5 linked regions of the Homo sapiens genome follow. The protein of the gene in region 1 interacts with the protein of each later gene in a pairwise test. Each region holds a gene or a part of one and is shown in the gene's direction. Other genes may lie near its edges.

What was found.
Region 2: the proteins of NEFM (region 1) and ITSN1 interact in a two-hybrid assay, tested with the Homo sapiens proteins (one large-scale study listed by BioGRID and IntAct).
Region 3: the proteins of NEFM (region 1) and DSCAM interact in a two-hybrid assay, tested with the Homo sapiens proteins (one large-scale study listed by BioGRID and IntAct).
Region 4: the proteins of NEFM (region 1) and SMAD2 interact in binary tests that used the Homo sapiens proteins (3 or more experiments, as listed by UniProt).
Region 5: the proteins of NEFM (region 1) and TNIK interact in a two-hybrid assay, tested with the Homo sapiens proteins (2 studies listed by BioGRID and IntAct).

What each region holds. Positions count from the first base shown.
Region 1 is NC_000008.11:24,916,740-24,919,593, forward strand, and holds the end of NEFM (neurofilament medium polypeptide), read left to right. Parts: intron 1-321; coding exon 322-1,867; 3' UTR 1,868-2,354; downstream 2,355-2,854. UniProt on the Homo sapiens protein: Neurofilaments usually contain three intermediate filament proteins: NEFL, NEFM, and NEFH which are involved in the maintenance of neuronal caliber.
Region 2 is NC_000021.9:33,648,987-33,652,507, forward strand, and holds part of ITSN1 (intersectin-1), read left to right. Parts: intron 1-3,521. UniProt on the Homo sapiens protein: Adapter protein that provides a link between the endocytic membrane traffic and the actin assembly machinery. Acts as a guanine nucleotide exchange factor (GEF) for CDC42, and thereby stimulates actin nucleation mediated by WASL and the ARP2/3 complex.
Region 3 is NC_000021.9:40,011,142-40,014,662, reverse strand, and holds part of DSCAM (cell adhesion molecule DSCAM isoform CHD2-42 precursor), read left to right. Parts: intron 1-1,276; coding exon 1,277-1,629; 3' UTR 1,630-3,521. UniProt on the Homo sapiens protein: Cell adhesion molecule that plays a role in neuronal self-avoidance. Promotes repulsion between specific neuronal processes of either the same cell or the same subtype of cells.
Region 4 is NC_000018.10:47,920,647-47,924,167, reverse strand, and holds part of SMAD2 (mothers against decapentaplegic homolog 2), read left to right. Parts: intron 1-3,521. UniProt on the Homo sapiens protein: Receptor-regulated SMAD (R-SMAD) that is an intracellular signal transducer and transcriptional modulator activated by TGF-beta (transforming growth factor) and activin type 1 receptor kinases.
Region 5 is NC_000003.12:171,058,401-171,061,921, reverse strand, and holds the end of TNIK (TRAF2 and NCK-interacting protein kinase), read left to right. Parts: 3' UTR 1-3,508; downstream 3,509-3,521. UniProt on the Homo sapiens protein: Serine/threonine kinase that acts as an essential activator of the Wnt signaling pathway. Recruited to promoters of Wnt target genes and required to activate their expression. May act by phosphorylating TCF4/TCF7L2.

The sequences.
Region 1 (2,854 bases):
TTCAGCATATTCATGTTGTACCTAATGGATCTCTACTGCAGGGCCAAGACTTAGTAGCTGGGTGTGGTTAGTGGACTATTGGGCAAGGTTAGTCATTGTAGGGGGCAACTGTCTGGCAGTCCAGGAGAATCTTTCTCTGTCACTGAGTATAATGTAATATGCCAGTAAGTGATAGCAGGTATTATAGTGAATTCATAGAATATTCTACTTATGTAATTCTATTTATTCAAAGGTAGCTACCACAATACCCAGAATGTAATGAAGCTCAGAAGGCCTAGTGAAATTTTTACTATGTCTTATGTTCTTGGATTTTCTCCTTAGAAAACTCCTGGAGGGTGAAGAGACTAGATTTAGCACATTTGCAGGAAGCATCACTGGGCCACTGTATACACACCGACCCCCAATCACAATATCCAGTAAGATTCAGAAACCCAAGGTGGAAGCTCCCAAGCTTAAGGTCCAACACAAATTTGTCGAGGAGATCATAGAGGAAACCAAAGTGGAGGATGAGAAGTCAGAAATGGAAGAGGCCCTGACAGCCATTACAGAGGAATTGGCCGTTTCCATGAAGGAAGAGAAGAAAGAAGCAGCAGAAGAAAAGGAAGAGGAACCCGAAGCTGAAGAAGAAGAAGTAGCTGCCAAAAAGTCTCCAGTGAAAGCAACTGCACCTGAAGTTAAAGAAGAGGAAGGGGAAAAGGAGGAAGAAGAAGGCCAGGAAGAAGAGGAGGAAGAAGATGAGGGAGCTAAGTCAGACCAAGCCGAAGAGGGAGGATCCGAGAAGGAAGGCTCTAGTGAAAAAGAGGAAGGTGAGCAGGAAGAAGGAGAAACAGAAGCTGAAGCTGAAGGAGAGGAAGCCGAAGCTAAAGAGGAAAAGAAAGTGGAGGAAAAGAGTGAGGAAGTGGCTACCAAGGAGGAGCTGGTGGCAGATGCCAAGGTGGAAAAGCCAGAAAAAGCCAAGTCTCCTGTGCCAAAATCACCAGTGGAAGAGAAAGGCAAGTCTCCTGTGCCCAAGTCACCAGTGGAAGAGAAAGGCAAGTCTCCTGTGCCCAAGTCACCAGTGGAAGAGAAAGGCAAGTCTCCTGTGCCGAAATCACCAGTGGAAGAGAAAGGCAAGTCTCCTGTGTCAAAATCACCAGTGGAAGAGAAAGCCAAATCTCCTGTGCCAAAATCACCAGTGGAAGAGGCAAAGTCAAAAGCAGAAGTGGGGAAAGGTGAACAGAAAGAGGAAGAAGAAAAGGAAGTCAAGGAAGCTCCCAAGGAAGAGAAGGTAGAGAAAAAGGAAGAGAAACCAAAGGATGTGCCAGAGAAGAAGAAAGCTGAGTCCCCTGTAAAGGAGGAAGCTGTGGCAGAGGTGGTCACCATCACCAAATCGGTAAAGGTGCACTTGGAGAAAGAGACCAAAGAAGAGGGGAAGCCACTGCAGCAGGAGAAAGAGAAGGAGAAAGCGGGAGGAGAGGGAGGAAGTGAGGAGGAAGGGAGTGATAAAGGTGCCAAGGGATCCAGGAAGGAAGACATAGCTGTCAATGGGGAGGTAGAAGGAAAAGAGGAGGTAGAGCAGGAGACCAAGGAAAAAGGCAGTGGGAGGGAAGAGGAGAAAGGCGTTGTCACCAATGGCCTAGACTTGAGCCCAGCAGATGAAAAGAAGGGGGGTGATAAAAGTGAGGAGAAAGTGGTGGTGACCAAAACGGTAGAAAAAATCACCAGTGAGGGGGGAGATGGTGCTACCAAATACATCACTAAATCTGTAACCGTCACTCAAAAGGTTGAAGAGCATGAAGAGACCTTTGAGGAGAAACTAGTGTCTACTAAAAAGGTAGAAAAAGTCACTTCACACGCCATAGTAAAGGAAGTCACCCAGAGTGACTAAGATTTGAGTCCATTGCAAAAGGTTAAGCCATATGACAATTTCAAAATGCATGTGATTGGCAGCTTCAAAACAGAACGGGTTCTCCCATGGGGGCTCCAGACATTGTATTTTACTTTGTGCAATATGAGGGGACTGCATGCAAGCTCAGGGTGCTCCCTCCTCAGTCTTTGGGGGATTCAAATGCATGATATTGTATGTACCTGGGAAATTTGCCGATTTCCTAAGCTGTTGGAAGGGGGTCACTTAAGGGGGGATGTCTTGAGATGTATTATGCAAAGTACCAACTGAGCCAAAAACAATAAACGAAACACAGAACTCAGCCTTAAGAAAGCTATATATGAATAATTATGTTTACCTCACTGGTGCATTTAAAATGGACTTTTGTTCATGGGAGAACCTCGTTGACATGCACAGTTTGCAATCTTATGTTGATCGATGTTAAACGTCACAGCAGTACTTGCTCAATAAAGGTCATATTGGAAACATAGTCAATTGCTGAGTCTTATGTCATTTCTCTTTTTCTAATTTTTATTTATTTATTTTTATTTAGAGATGGGGTCTTGCTATGTGGCCTCAAGCAGTCCTCCCACCTCAGCCACCCAAAGTGCTGGGATTACAGGCATGAGCCACCACGCCCAGCCTGTTATGCCATTTCAAAGTGAAATCTCCACTACCTGAAGCTTTCTTGCCCTGAAATAGATTATTGGGGGGAATCATAAGTAAACTGCACATCTTATTGCTATTTCCCTGACAGCAATTACTTGGAAAACGTAATTGCTGAAGATATTTTCAGGTGTCAACATCTTCACCGAGCCCGGTCTTCATCCCAAAATTTTAAAATCATATTTTTGAAATAAAAATAAAAGCATCAGATACAAATAGGAATCTGGTGGGATAGAAATCTTCAGTGTTTGTTTCTATCCCAAAACAGAACTCAGAACCTCTAGGTAAGAGGACCAATAAAGGAGGGGTTCATAACTTGTGCCT
Region 2 (3,521 bases), on another chromosome or scaffold:
GGTTTTCCTAAAGTACCCCTGCATGAAAAACAGGATTAGAGTGCTAGAGAAGACTAGTGAAATTTGAAAAGGCAGTTCACTTGTGATGTGGACTTGTCTTAGAAACGCAAGACTGTACAGAAGTGTGATGAGGGAGACAGCTGGGTGTGTGTGTCCAGGTAGTTCCATGTTGGCGAGTTTGGAGATAGAAAGTGGCCTAAGGAAGTTTACTTCCTGAATGTGAATGTTGGCCACTTTGGAGATAGAAAGTGGCCTAAGGAAGTTTGCTTCCTGAATGTGAAGGCCTCAGTGTAGAGAGATATCATCCACTGGGAGATCACTGAAAAGTAAACCAAAACATTTTTATTAATACATGGGATGGTAGAATGTCACTCCAGTTTTGTTCCTAAAGTTCGTAGCTCTCTAAGAAAGTGAATTTTAAGCAAGTTAATCTATTTTAATGCATCACTGCTCTTTCGGTGTTTTTCTAGTAGAATTAATGATAGGTAGCTTGCTTTATTAGCTTACTGCCCAGAGAGAACATTGGTGAAATTGTTTTGGCTTCAGCTCTCTGGACTGAGTTTGGCTGCCTAGCTCAGTTTTCAGTTGGTCACCAAAACCTGTCATTGTTTTTGTGTGGTATGGGGTCTGCTGGAGTCATGTGGTAGTGCGTTTGGCCCTTCATTGAGTGGTGGAGCCAGGAGTTGAGCTGAGGGCTGTGGCAGAATTTTGAATTCAAGTGAATTCGAATGTGAAAATAACAATGTCTGGCCGGGCGTGGTGGCTCACACCTGTAATCCCAGCACTTTGAGAGGCCGAGGTGTGCGGATCATGAGGTCAGGAGTTTGAGACCAGCCTGGCCAACATGGTGAAACCCCATCTCTACTAAAAAATACAAAAATTAGGCGGGCGTGGTGGCGCACAAGTGTAATCCCAGCTACTTGGGAGGCTGAAGCAGGAGAATTGCTTCAATTCCCTGCTTGAACCCAGGAGGTGGAGATTTCAGTGAGCTGACATCGCACCATTACACTCCAGCCTTGGCGACAGAGCGAGACTCTGTCTCAGAAAAAAAAAAAAAAAAGAAAGAAAGAAAATAACAAGGTCATAGCAACACAGCAAGTGGTCAGAATTTTACCCTTGGTGGTTAAAATTAAACATCCTCTTTTTAATACAGGAGGACAATGCTCTTGCTCCTCTGTTGCACTGGTGAGCATTTGATGTGTTCCTCCTTGCATTATGTCTGCAAATCGTTCTGGTGTCTGGTGGCATGCATTTGCAAGACATGGATACAGTTCATGGACGTGGACGAGGTCAGCTGGCTTTTAGTGTCAGGCTTTAACCAACCTAGTTAAGAAGGACGCTGACTCTTACCATAAAAGCACTGCAACAAGATTGGAATTGGAGCTCCAACGAATTGGAGCCATTCGTTTTGTGTGTGTGTGTCTGTTTGCCTGTGTGTGTGTACAGGGTTAATTACTTCTCTGCAAGGCAAATTTCCTGACCGGTTTTATTGTTCTAACACAGACAAAATGTTGTGTAAACACATATATCATTCCAGTGTGTTATCTATAATAGGAGTGTTCATTGTGGATCCAGTGTTTCACAAAAATCAATTCATTTCCGCTCTGAACTTAAGATAGTAGATTTTAAAACCAAGTTATCTTTCAATTTCTGAAGTTATCTGAAACTCAGCTGCCCCAGTCTTGCAGAATTGGAGAATTGCATTTTGGCCACTGATGAATGAAAGCTATATAGCTAGTAATGAGAGAAACCTTGAAAAATTGACAAGAAAATGAGTGCCATTCTTGGTATATAGCAGATTTCAATGAATAGTAGTTCCCTTTGCCTTTATTTTTCCTCTTTCCTGCACTTAATATAAAGAGCTAATATTAAAGTCATTAAATGAGAATAGATCTGTATTATAGGTAGCACTGCTTATTTTTAGACCCCTTCAGATACAGTTATTACAATTGTTGTTTTAATATTCTTTAAATGATTACAGGAGGAAGAAACTTGGTAGCGGGGTTACCAGGATGTTAGCTCCATGAGGGCAGGGAGTGTATCGCTGTTGTCCAGGGGGCTAGCCCCAGGCCCTAGAGCAGCGCCTGCTGCCTGGCAGACACGCAAGGGTTATTTGTTGGTTTATTAAATCAAGGAGTGTTTGAGGTCCTTCAAGCCTGGAGGCCCGAGGGCTCTGAGCTGGTACAGAGCAAGTGCTGGGGGCAAGAGAGACAGGTGGGGAGTGAAGGAGAGAGGCCCACTTGGGACTTGACTCTGAATGTCTGGGAAGTAGGAAGTTAATGTAAGTTTTAAGCAGGGGAGTCCCATGATGTGCTTTTGTTTAAAAATCTCCTTCTGAGTATCATGTGGGAGTGGATTGGAGGATGGATAGAGAGGAACATTCCATTGACTCGGCTTCCAGCTGTCTATGGATGTTGACGTTTCTACCTAGCCTTCTGCTTTATCTTTGTGATGAGGATAATGTGGTGTACTTTGTGAGGTCTCAGGAATGGTTTGAGATGAATGGTAATTTGTGTAAACTTTCCGGAGTTTCTCTGAGGAAAAGAGAACCCCATAAAATTATTACTATTGATCAAATGAAATAGCAGTGTAAGACAAAGATCAAGAATTATTTAGCTTTATAAACAAATTAATTGAGGTTATGAATATAGGTTTCTATAGGAGAGATTTTGTTTCCTTTTTTTAGTGAAAGAAATCTTAAATGTATGGGAATGAATCCTTAAAATAGCAGGCTTTTGCATTGTCTATAGAAGCTGTTCTCTTTGAGGAAGATCTGTTTTGTAAAATGCTGCTGTTGTCTGTCCAATCTGGAGTTTTAATTAGTATCAAAGGGAGGGAAATCCTGCAGTAATCGTAACCTTACTTTAATTCTTAGTTCAATTAGTTTTAAACCACAGTCATTATCTGTTATCTTTAGTTGTTTTGATCTTGGTAGATGAAGTGATTAATATTACAGTTGTGATTTGGTAATTTAAAAAATAACATGTTTTTTCCTACTACAAAAGGAATACATGTTTATTGAAGAAAACTTTTGGAAACATATATAAGGAAAGAAGACTAAAAGCCTACCAAGATCTTACCATCCAGTGATAATGACTGTTAATACCCTGTGAAGGTCAACATGCTCAAATTACCCAGCAGGTGCCTGGTGTGAAGCTACTTAGCCCGGGAGAGTTGAAGGCCTGTTAGGGACCACGAGCACTGAAGGTGGCAGGACGGTCCAGGGCCAGTCAACCCAGACCTTTGTGGTTCTGGGAGGATGCGTCCTGGTGTTACTACACCTTATAGTTATTTAGGAGAATGTGGGTTTAATATGAAATCTTCTGATTTTTATGTGGGCCACACTTTTTATTGTTAACACACTGGGGTTCAAAGCATACCTGAGGGCTGGATTCAGTCTTCGTTGCCTTGCCAGTTTGTAGCCTCAGGTACGTACAGTTTTGTAGCCTGTGTTTTTCACTTAATGTGTTGTATTTGCAGCCTTTTTTGCTACATCGTCATATATGTAATCAGTCACTTAT
Region 3 (3,521 bases), on another chromosome or scaffold:
GGAGAAGGCGAAGGAGGGATTGGTTGGAGGCACGTCAGGCTGCGGTGCACTTCTGAGAAGGCTGCAGTGAGGCTGATGGGGTATCCCTGAGCAAAGGATGCCTGTTAGGGAGATCCTGCATCGGGCGGGGACGGCCATGAGAAAAGCCCTGTCACGCTTGTCATTGGCTTGCAGCATCCCAGAGAACACATGCCTCCCTTCCTGCAGCAGATGCTCTTGGTTTTTTTGTTTTGGTTTGGGTTTTTTGTTTGTTTTGTTTTGTTTTGTTTTGTTTTGTTTGAGTCTTGCTCTGTCACCCAGGCTGGAGTGCAGTGGCATAATCTCAGCTCACTGCAACCTCCTCCTCCCGGGTTCAAGCGATTCTCCTGCCTCAGTGTCCCCAGTACTGGGACTACAGGCGCCCACCATCATGCTTGGCTAGTTTTTGTATTTTTAGTAGAGAGGGGGTTTTGCCATGTTGGCCTGGCTGGTCTTGAACTCCTGACCTCAGGTGATCCTTCCGCCTCGGCCTCCCGAAGTTCTAGGATTACAGGCATGAGGCACACCGTGCCCAGCCAGCAGATGCTCTTGAAGGAGACCTGAGGTTATGTTTGCGTGGCACCACAGAAGCCAGAGTGACCATAAGCAGGAAGTAGAAACACTAGAATTCTGGTCTAAGCTGCTGTCATCTCTATACACAGCATGGCTGAAACAGAAGAGCCACGCAGAAGTTAGCAGGTAGGCAGGGCCTGGTAAGAAGGCCATAAGCTGTGGCGCTTTCACCCAAAGCCATCATGAAGACCCATAACTAAGTGGCTGGCCAAGGTCACAAGGTTTCATAGAATTGCCAGGACGAGAGCCAGCTGTCCATCTTCGCTTGGCGTCCCTGGCTCTCTCCTCAAACCCTGTGCTCTCCCTGTACTTCCAATCACATGCGGGGTTTGGTCTATCACCGTTCGTACCCAGTGGACACTGATGCCTTTGATGTATGTTTTTCTTTCAACGATGGTGTGTTGAAGGATTCTGTTACCTCCATTCCTCCATTTCTGTACAAGTAAGTTAATACAAGTAAGTAAGTACTGTAGGAAAATGAGCTCCTCCCGCGCCCAGGGAGGAGGTAGGAGGACGATTCCACCTGTCTTTGTGGTGAGCGCTGAAGGAGGATCTTGAGAAAGGCACCTGTGTGCAGCGGCATTCTCATCTCTAAAGCCCGCATGGCTTCCCGTGTGCACACAGGACATTCTGCCCATGTTTACCAAATGAAGACACCAACTAACTACCCTGTCTTTCCTTCTAGGTGACCTCATACATTTGCCTCCATACCTTAGAATGGACTTTTTGTTAAACCGAGGTGGTCCAGGCACCAGCAGGGACCTGAGCTTAGGACAAGCATGCTTGGAACCTCAGAAAAGCCGGACCCTGAAGCGCCCCACGGTCCTGGAGCCCATCCCGATGGAAGCCGCCTCCTCCGCCTCCTCCACGAGAGAAGGACAGTCGTGGCAGCCGGGGGCCGTGGCCACATTACCTCAGCGGGAGGGAGCAGAGCTGGGACAGGCAGCTAAAATGAGCAGCTCCCAAGAATCACTGCTCGACTCCCGGGGCCATTTGAAAGGAAACAATCCTTACGCAAAATCTTACACCCTGGTATAACAGACAGCATGACTGGACAGCGGTTGTAAATACAATTCAAACAATTCAATCAAAGCTACCTTTTTTTTACGGAATTCCAATATTTATAATTAAAGAAAATTGCCAAAATATATTAAAAAAAAAAAAGAGAAAATACTGAAACCACAGACAGTGCAAAGACTCTCCTGCTTTTTTTCTGTCTGAGTGTGAGCTCCATCCGCCTGGGCATCTGATTTTTTGGGAAAGAAGTCCAGTTTTATGATCTTCACAGGCTATTGCATTTTTACTGATTTTCTACAAAAGTGCATGGGGGGGATTAATTAAACCTTCTGACTGGAAGTTCTATCACACAAGAGGCAAGAAAGAAAACAGGGTGGGTGGGAAATCAGCCTATTTGTGAATTTAAAAGGAACACCGATTTGCGGGCAGGGGAAAACTTCAGTCACGTTTGCACACCTTTCTTTCCCATTAGAAACCGGGTTCTCAATTTGGTCTTCTTTTGTTGTTAATTAGGATGAGTGCCGTCAGTGAAGGGGTGGGGGGAATCAATTTGGTTTTCTCTCTTGTTTCTTTTTTAATTTAATGAGACACTCTTTGCATTTTGTCTAAGCGAAATAAAAAAGAAAAGGTTGTCTGCCTTTATTTCCATGTCTGCTTCTCTCGTCTTCTGCCAGTGGCCTGGTCCTCCTTCCCATTGACACTTCTGTTTGGAAACACCAGGCCTGAACCCAGAGCCCAATTCAATAAACCAGAGTCGATACTAACACCCTGAACTCCTCAGGAATCTCCAGGAAGCACAAAGAAGGTGCAGCTCCTGCTCTCAAGCTGGAGAGGACAAAATGCAGGCTGGTCTCCACCGCAACCAGAGGCCAGCCCAAGTATTCGAAGCCCGTCGCAAAGCTCTGCCCCTTGCCTGCCCATGGCCAGAGTTCAACTGACTGTGGCCTATGGGCCAAATCCAGCCTCCTGCTGTTTTTTAAATAAAGTTTTATTGAAACAAGGCCACATGCACTATTTGCTATTGTCTATGGCTGCTTTCATGGCACAATGGTAGAGCTGAATAGTTGCAGCAGAGATGGTATAGCCCATGAAGCCTAAAATATTTATTACCTGGCCCATTACAGGAAACATTTGCCAGACCCGTGCTCTGGAGTCTGAAATGTAGCCCCAGCTTGCGTGACAAGGGGCAAGATCGTGCATCTTACCCTCCATGACTTTTCCTATCTCCACTATGCCTGGTATGCAAATTTGTGATAGACCATCTTAATAAACATTGCCTGAATCCTCTGTAACCAGAGGAAAGTGATGTTCCTCTAAAATCTAAGTTTTTACTTTCCTTTCCCTCACTTTATCTCCCATGTGGCTCATCCTAAGAGAGAATTTACTCATAAATAGTCGGAACTGCATTCTTTATCCCACAACCCTCACAGGGTTTGCTTTATGAAAGAGGATGTAATCCTCCCCTGGCTGCAACACTCCATTCCAGGCTCACTTCCATAAAATGGAAAGATAAACAGGTCTTTGTGTCAGAGATTTGGCATTAACCAGAAAACATGATCAAATATCCACAGCTGCTCAGTCTCCCAGGCTGAAGATTCTCTACAGGCTTCCATTAAGGCCACCAACATAGACTGGTGCCAGTTATTACCATCTTGGGAACATATTCAGAAATGTCTTTCCTTCCCTCCCTCCCTCCTTCTTTCCCATCCTTTCTTCCTTCTATTTATTTTCCAGGCAGGCCCATTTGTCTGCTTAGATTCAGTGACACAGAATGGGTCCAGGACCATGTCAAGACCACCTGCTGATGCTAGTGTTAGATGACTCCAGGAATGTGAGGTGTGCATCCATGGTTTCAGAATGTAATCCGTGTTGACGTGTACTGTTTGCATACTCTCAGACTGTTTTTTTTTTAT
Region 4 (3,521 bases), on another chromosome or scaffold:
CAAGCAGTTCTCCTGCCTCAGCCTCCTGAGTAGCTAGGATTACAGGCATGCGCCACCATGTCCGGCTAATTTTGTATTTTTAATAGAAACGGGGTTTCACCATGTTGGTCAGGCTGGTCTCGAACTCCTGACCTCAGGTGATTCGCCCACCTTGGCCTCCCAAAGTGTTGGGATTACATGCGTGAGCCACTGCGCCCGGCCTAAAATTCTTAATAGACAGGTAGTTAGGTTGTAGTTCATGTTAGCTGATCAATTAAACTTTTTTTTAAAAAATGTTTTAGTTATCAGGAGGGTCCAGCTTTGGCCTGAGGTTGTGCATTGGCCATTTCTGCTCGAAACCAGTAGTAGTCAGACTTAAAACATGTGCACACCTGCACACACAGCAGCAACTAGAAAGCCTTTAGAGAGAAATATGCAGAATTTCGAAATGTAAAACAGATAAAAGGAGTAAAGCTGTTTTGTGGAAGGAAGAATAGGCAGTTGTTGAAGTCCTGCCTGATCAGTTTTCCTCTCATCCTCACCACCAGGAAGCCTTTGAAGCACAGCTGAAGAACAGTAGGTCTTGGAGAAATTTTTGCTGTAGACCTGCTCTATCTTAACAGGTAGCTGCCAGCCACATGTGGCTATTTAGCACTTGAAATGTGGCTGCTGTGACTGAGAAACTGAATGTTAAATTTTACTTAATCTAAATTTAGATAGCCATATGCAGCTGATGGCTACTGTATTAGACAGCACAGATACCCAAGGACATTTACATCATTGTATAAAGTTGTGTTGGGTGGCACTACTCTAGACTTTGCTTTAATTGAGCTTTTATGGCCTGAGGACCCCACTCACGTGAATTGACGTGGTATTAGTTGCTGCTTCAGAAGAGGGTCAGGATAGACTTTGGGAATTTGAAGAGCAATTAGAGTACTTGTACTTTATATTTGTGCTGATTTGAGTCTGGGCCTGTGTAGTGTTGTCATAGGTGCTTTTTTTTTTTTTTTAATAATCTGGGAATGATAAACCAATATGTAAGTTACGTGTTTACAAGTTGATTATAGAGTTGTGGATTCCACAAAACTCATTATAGGTGATAGGAATATAACTCTTAGTTAAAAAAAAAAAAATAAGTAGTCTCTTTACACAGCAGTCCCTATTTAATGTGGACTTTTGCTAAAATAATAATTTTCTTGAATTAAATTCAAGCTTGCATTAGGTTTGACAGTCCATAAAGTTGAACACATGAATGTTTTCTGTTTGCTTTTGTTTAAAAGACATGACCCATCATTCTCCATGGGGGCCGACCTAGGTTTCCAGTTGGCAGTGTCTTTCCTTACTAGCTTACGCTTTGGAGAGAACATAGTTGTAGTGAGAATTGAAAAATCTGTTTTTAAAAAATTGGGTTTTATGTATTTTAATTTTTTTGAGGTTTTCTATTATCCTGGTTACTAATGAATTATTTATTTGACTAAAACAGTTATACAATTCCAGGTCATTGATGCTGCTGTTTTTTTCTCTGCCTTGTAGTATGTTTGAACATAGATTGCTAAAAATCTCGGTCTCCACAGAGGATTGGTTCCGGGACTCTCCTGCAAGCACCAGAATATGAGAACGCTGAAGTCCCTTGTATAAAATGGTGTAGAATTTGTTTTATGCACATTTTATTGTTATTCTTTAAATCCTCTCTAGATTACTTAATATCTAATACAATGTAAATAGTTGTTATTCTATATTGTTTTAGAAATGATGAGAAAAAAGTCTGTACATGTTCAGTACAGTCACAGTTTTTTCCTGAATATTTTTTATCCATGGTTGGTTTAATCCATGTATTTGGAACCCACAGATAAGGAGGATTGACTGCACAGTGATTTTATATTATTTCTAGTGGGACCTTAGATGTTCTAGATGAGGCAGCACCATCATATTTAAAGTATTTTTGTTGAAATAATTAACTTTGGTTTTCTTTCTAAATAAAAATTCACATAGGTATTTGGGGAATATTTTGTATTTTCCTGCAGTTTGAAGATTTGAAATTTCTCTTCCCTCCATACCTTTTAAAAGTGCAATCTACTTTTGCTTTCTACATTTAATCACTATCTGTTCTTGACTTCAACTTTGCAAACATATTTTTTAACCATTCTTTTTCACATTTCCCTTCCTACTGGCCTTCCGGATGAACTGTCAAGTTTAGCAGTCTTTTCTCAGTGATCATACTTTCTTCAGTGTTTGCTGTTATTGTTTATACTGTCTTTATCTAAATTTCTTAAAATGACACAGACACAAGTTAGGCCCATTCTTCTTACTGTAAACAGATGAAAATGTTGGATAAAATATAAAAGTTTTCTCTTATGTATACAGTTGATCTTGAGAGAGAAAGTGCCCAGGTACTAGAAACTTAGAAAAATCAGTCAACTTTAAGGGAAGTGTGGCCTTGGGGGATTTACTAGAGATAAGATTCAGTAGTTGGGGCTGAGGTTATAATGCCATTCAATGAAAGGAGACAGAACTGTGGGAACTGTGTGCTTAAAAAAATTAAAAAATGAAAAGTGTTCTGGTATCATTGAAACATCTGGGGCTTCTTGGAGAAAGAAGCCTCAGACCTCTCTATGGAGGAACTGGAAAAACAGTAGGCTTTAGATGGACTTTAATATCACAGCAAGGCAAGGCAGGGTACATGAAAACATCTACAGCTGCATGTGGAATAGTGAATTTTTGTATACATAATCCATGACTGCAATCCAAAATTCAGGGATACCCAGTGAAGAGTCTCTTTACTGGTCTGTTCTTTGCCATACAGTTGCCTTTTCAAAGGCAAGTAGCTTTACTAGGTTTTTGTGTGGTGTTCCAGAGATTTTATGCATCTATGAACAATTTTGTGTGTATATTACCTTTTAGTACAAGTGGTCACATATGTCACTTAATAGTACATCTTATTTTGTGTCAGTATGTAATGAATGCCTTTCTTCTTTTTTGGAGTAGTGGGTTGTATAATATTCTTTTGTATGGGTGTCTGTAAATTTTTTTTTGAGACAGTGTCTCACTCTGTCACCCAGGCTGGAGTGCAGTGGTGTGATCACAGCTCACTGCAACCTTGACTGCCAGGGGTCAAGTTAATCTCCCACCTCAGCTACCTGAGTAGTTGGGACTGCAGGCGCATGCCTACCATATCCAGCTAATTTTTAAAATTTTTTGTAGAGGTGGGGTTTCGCCATGTTGCCTAGATTTGTCTTGAACTCCTGGGCTCAAGCGATTTGCCTGCCACGGCCCCTCAAAGTTTTGGGATTACAGGCGTAAGCCACTGTGCCTGGCCGGGTGTCTGAATATATCATCAGTCCTCTGTTGAATGTTTCCAGTCTTGTGGTATTAAAAACAATGCTACAACAAATAACTTCGTTTATATAGCATTTTGCTCCTTTGCAGGTATGTCTGTAAGATAGATTTCTAGGAGTAGTTCAAAGAATATCTACATTTGTAATTTATTTTAGAGAATGTACTTTATTCATTTTTTCGAATAACACATGCACATGGTATAAAAG
Region 5 (3,521 bases), on another chromosome or scaffold:
CAGCAAGATATCCTCCTCATGGTCCCTTTAGCTCTCAAAAGCAATGAAATCCTCCTGTTCTCATTTTTACTGCTGTGGTTGTGCTGCTGAACAATACTATCTTCTCAAATTCCATGCCACAAATTCAGCAATAACTTTTTGGATTGAATTTAACAACTACTGTAATTGGATGCTGATGTGGACAAAATATATTGATTTCGATTTCACTCCCGAATGTGATTGCCACCAGCTCTTTATATTGCTGCTGTGGTATTTTAAACCAGAAGCTTCTTTAAATTATGTTGCAAACTGATCTTTGTTTTTATGTTTTGTTTTGTTTTTATTTCTAAGTGATAAGTTTGAAACACACAGCTTTAAATGATTTTTTTATTGTGGGATTTTGGGTACAGTTAAGAAATAAAAGGGAATCATTGTGTTTAAACATAAGGTAGTTTGTGAATGTATTTTTTAAAATCTAGAGTCATTGAAACAAATCATAAGAAAACAATATTAATGCAGTCTTGTTTACAGTATGTACAGTGACATAACATAGAACATGAGCTTTTCTGGTGCCAACAACAATAAAACACACGTTAAACATCAAGCCATGCCTTTTATATTTTTGTACTAATATTTTACACTGAGTACAAGGCAAATCCAAATTTAAATGGGCCCCCCAGAAATCTGTGCTCTTTAAAAGACAGATATTTAAAGAATTCACTGAAGCTTTTATCTTCAAAAATAAATTTTCCTCCAGCAAGACAGACCCCAGCCCTGACATAAGGAGGCCTAGAACATGCAGAATACGTCAGAATGGTGTCCTTGTGGCTCATCCAAACTTTCTGAATTGCCTTAATTCTTTTTGGGGGTAGGGGAGGAACGGTTGCTTTTCATCCATTTTTATAGCATCTCAACAAAAAAAATCTTCAGTTCTGATCTTTTTATAGGTGATTTTGTCTCTAGAAATTGGCTCATTTTATTTTTATTTTCCTACAAAGAGAAACTGGAGAAACTGAGCCCTCCCCTCAGAGTAAGTTTCACTAGATCTGCCAGTTCTTACTGCTCTAAATTAATAATCATCCAGTAAAATCTACTGAGCCTGCCCACACCATAGTCTGGGTCTGGGGTCTGGCAGGTGACCATCATTCCTGGGTGCCAGTCAAAGATACTGTAGCATGGATTCCTGCATCCAGTGGTGGTAGGAATGGATGACCAGTGAAGTTCCTTCAAATAATGAGGCTCTTCCCCCTGCCAGTTCCAGCCAGACCACTGTCATAACACACAATGCAAATGAAGACAGCCTTCACTAAGTTCCACATAAAATTGAACAGCTCTATTTTAGATAGATCTCATTATTTTTCTTGGAGACTTCTAAACAATCCTTCAAGAAGACCTAGAACTATTATTTTTATTAAACAGGGTATATTAAGTTATGGGTGAAATCTCACAAGGTCACCTGGACAGGGGCTCCATTTTTCTAACACTTTGACATTGTTTTCTAGGGTGCACTCCTAATATACTTTGCATCAAGTACATGTTTTTTAAAAACACCTTAGTTCCTGGTTGTCAAAACCTACTAACAATTTTTGTCTGTTCTTGTGACTCATTGGTAATTGGTGTCTCTGGTCCCTCCTGTCCAGTAGATTATTAGAAAGATGTGAAATTCCAGCCAGAACCATTTTGGTTTTATCCACTGCCAGGAAAGGAAGGGGCTAAAGTCTCACATTCCACGAAGCTTTTAAAAAAATGCTTTCCCTACTACTATGTGTACCAGTTCCCGTCACTGTATTCTTGAAACGTGGAAGAGCTCTTTGTGTTAACAGTGTGTGCTGTCTTTGAAAGTCTGCTTGAACAGGCATCACTTGCATTTGTGCTGATTGCTTTAAGATGTAAGATGTGCTACATTATTTTTAAGAAAAAAAATAGTTATTGATAAAACTTTTAATTTTAACCTACTGCAGGAAAACATGAGAAAATCCACAGCATGCTGATAACAATTCTGAATGATGCTACTATGCTCTTTATATTCCAGAATCACCACTGGTACCATGTTCTGATCATTTCAACAGTCTCTAACTTGTTAGTTACCTTTTAGTTCATTCTTCAAAATTTAAATCTAACCAAATCAAGCAAAACATAACCAACCAACCAAAAACTGACCTCCCCTGAGACTACATAGTTGTAACATAAATCTAAAATCCAAAAGTCTAAATTTGATTTAATTTACCTGCTAATATTTCTCATAAATGCCACTATATCTCCTTGGTCACTATATATCAGGAACCCTAAAGTAAGCTGTCCTTTCATGGATCTTAAATAAATTGGGTGTAAAATTGATCACTTTTCAGGAGTCCCAGCAAAGAAGAAAACCTCTTGAGAATTTGCAAGTTCAAAACTGACAATTTGTATATTCCTACCAAACATTTTCTAGGTTGTTTTTATTTCTACACCATTATTCTGGGAATTCTTCCATTGATAACTAGAATATTCAACAGTTTGCTTAGCATTAAACAGTGTGAGATCATAACCCTGTGCTTTGGACTTTATTCTTCTAGACCTGCCATTCCAGGAAGTGCCAGAATATACCAAAATAAAAATCCCCATAAAAGCATTTTTAAACAAAAATCCCTGGGTAATGTTTGAGTTATTTTAAATCTAGATCAAAATCTTGGATTCTTCTGAGTCCATGATGACAAATGTTTGGATGAAAAGTAGAAAATACAGTTAAAAATAAAAATGTCCTAAAGTTTACAGATTTTTGAGTTTGTGTACATATCTTCAAACTCACTCCTTGCATGATAGGGTTTGGTTTTAATGGTTTATTTTTATCAGCACCAAGTTGCATTGCACTATTGAGGCTGAGCAAATGCTGGTGGAAAGGTGAGTTTTCATTTCTGGCAATGGATCATTATTTGTACACTGTAAATATCATGCCCAGCTACCCCTTTCCCTTATCTCTTCCCCTGGGATAAATGTTAAGGAATAGTAATACTTATTATGGTATGTTTAAGAAACCTTGGACATTACCCTGAATCAAAACTTCAAATGTTAGGTGGCAGCAGGAAACAAAAGATTACAGCTTGAATGAAATTTTAAAATTGAATGTTGTAAAACTATTTTTGAACGTTTTAGCTGCCTTATTTATGTTAATATAACTGTAGAGAGATGCCAAATGTATAATATCAGAAGGGAAAACTACGATTTTGCTGTGCCTACAATTGTTTACATTTTTTAAATCTCCAGTTTTCAAAAGTATTTTAAATTGTCAAACATTTGCTAAAACTGGATTATAACCTCACCTGAGAATGAGAGAAGAAAATCTTCCTGGCATATTTTCCAGTCTGAAACTTTTGGTTACTTTCAGGTATTTTTTTTCTTGCATACAAAAATCATTGAGAAAGTACTTTCTACAGTTATTCTAAGCAGTCATTAAAAATGCTTTGATAGGTTTCCCCACATGGTAACTACCATGTCCTGGAATATAATATGCTATCTTTGTCAAAATATGAATAATAAAACATTAATCGTAGGATGCCTCCTTG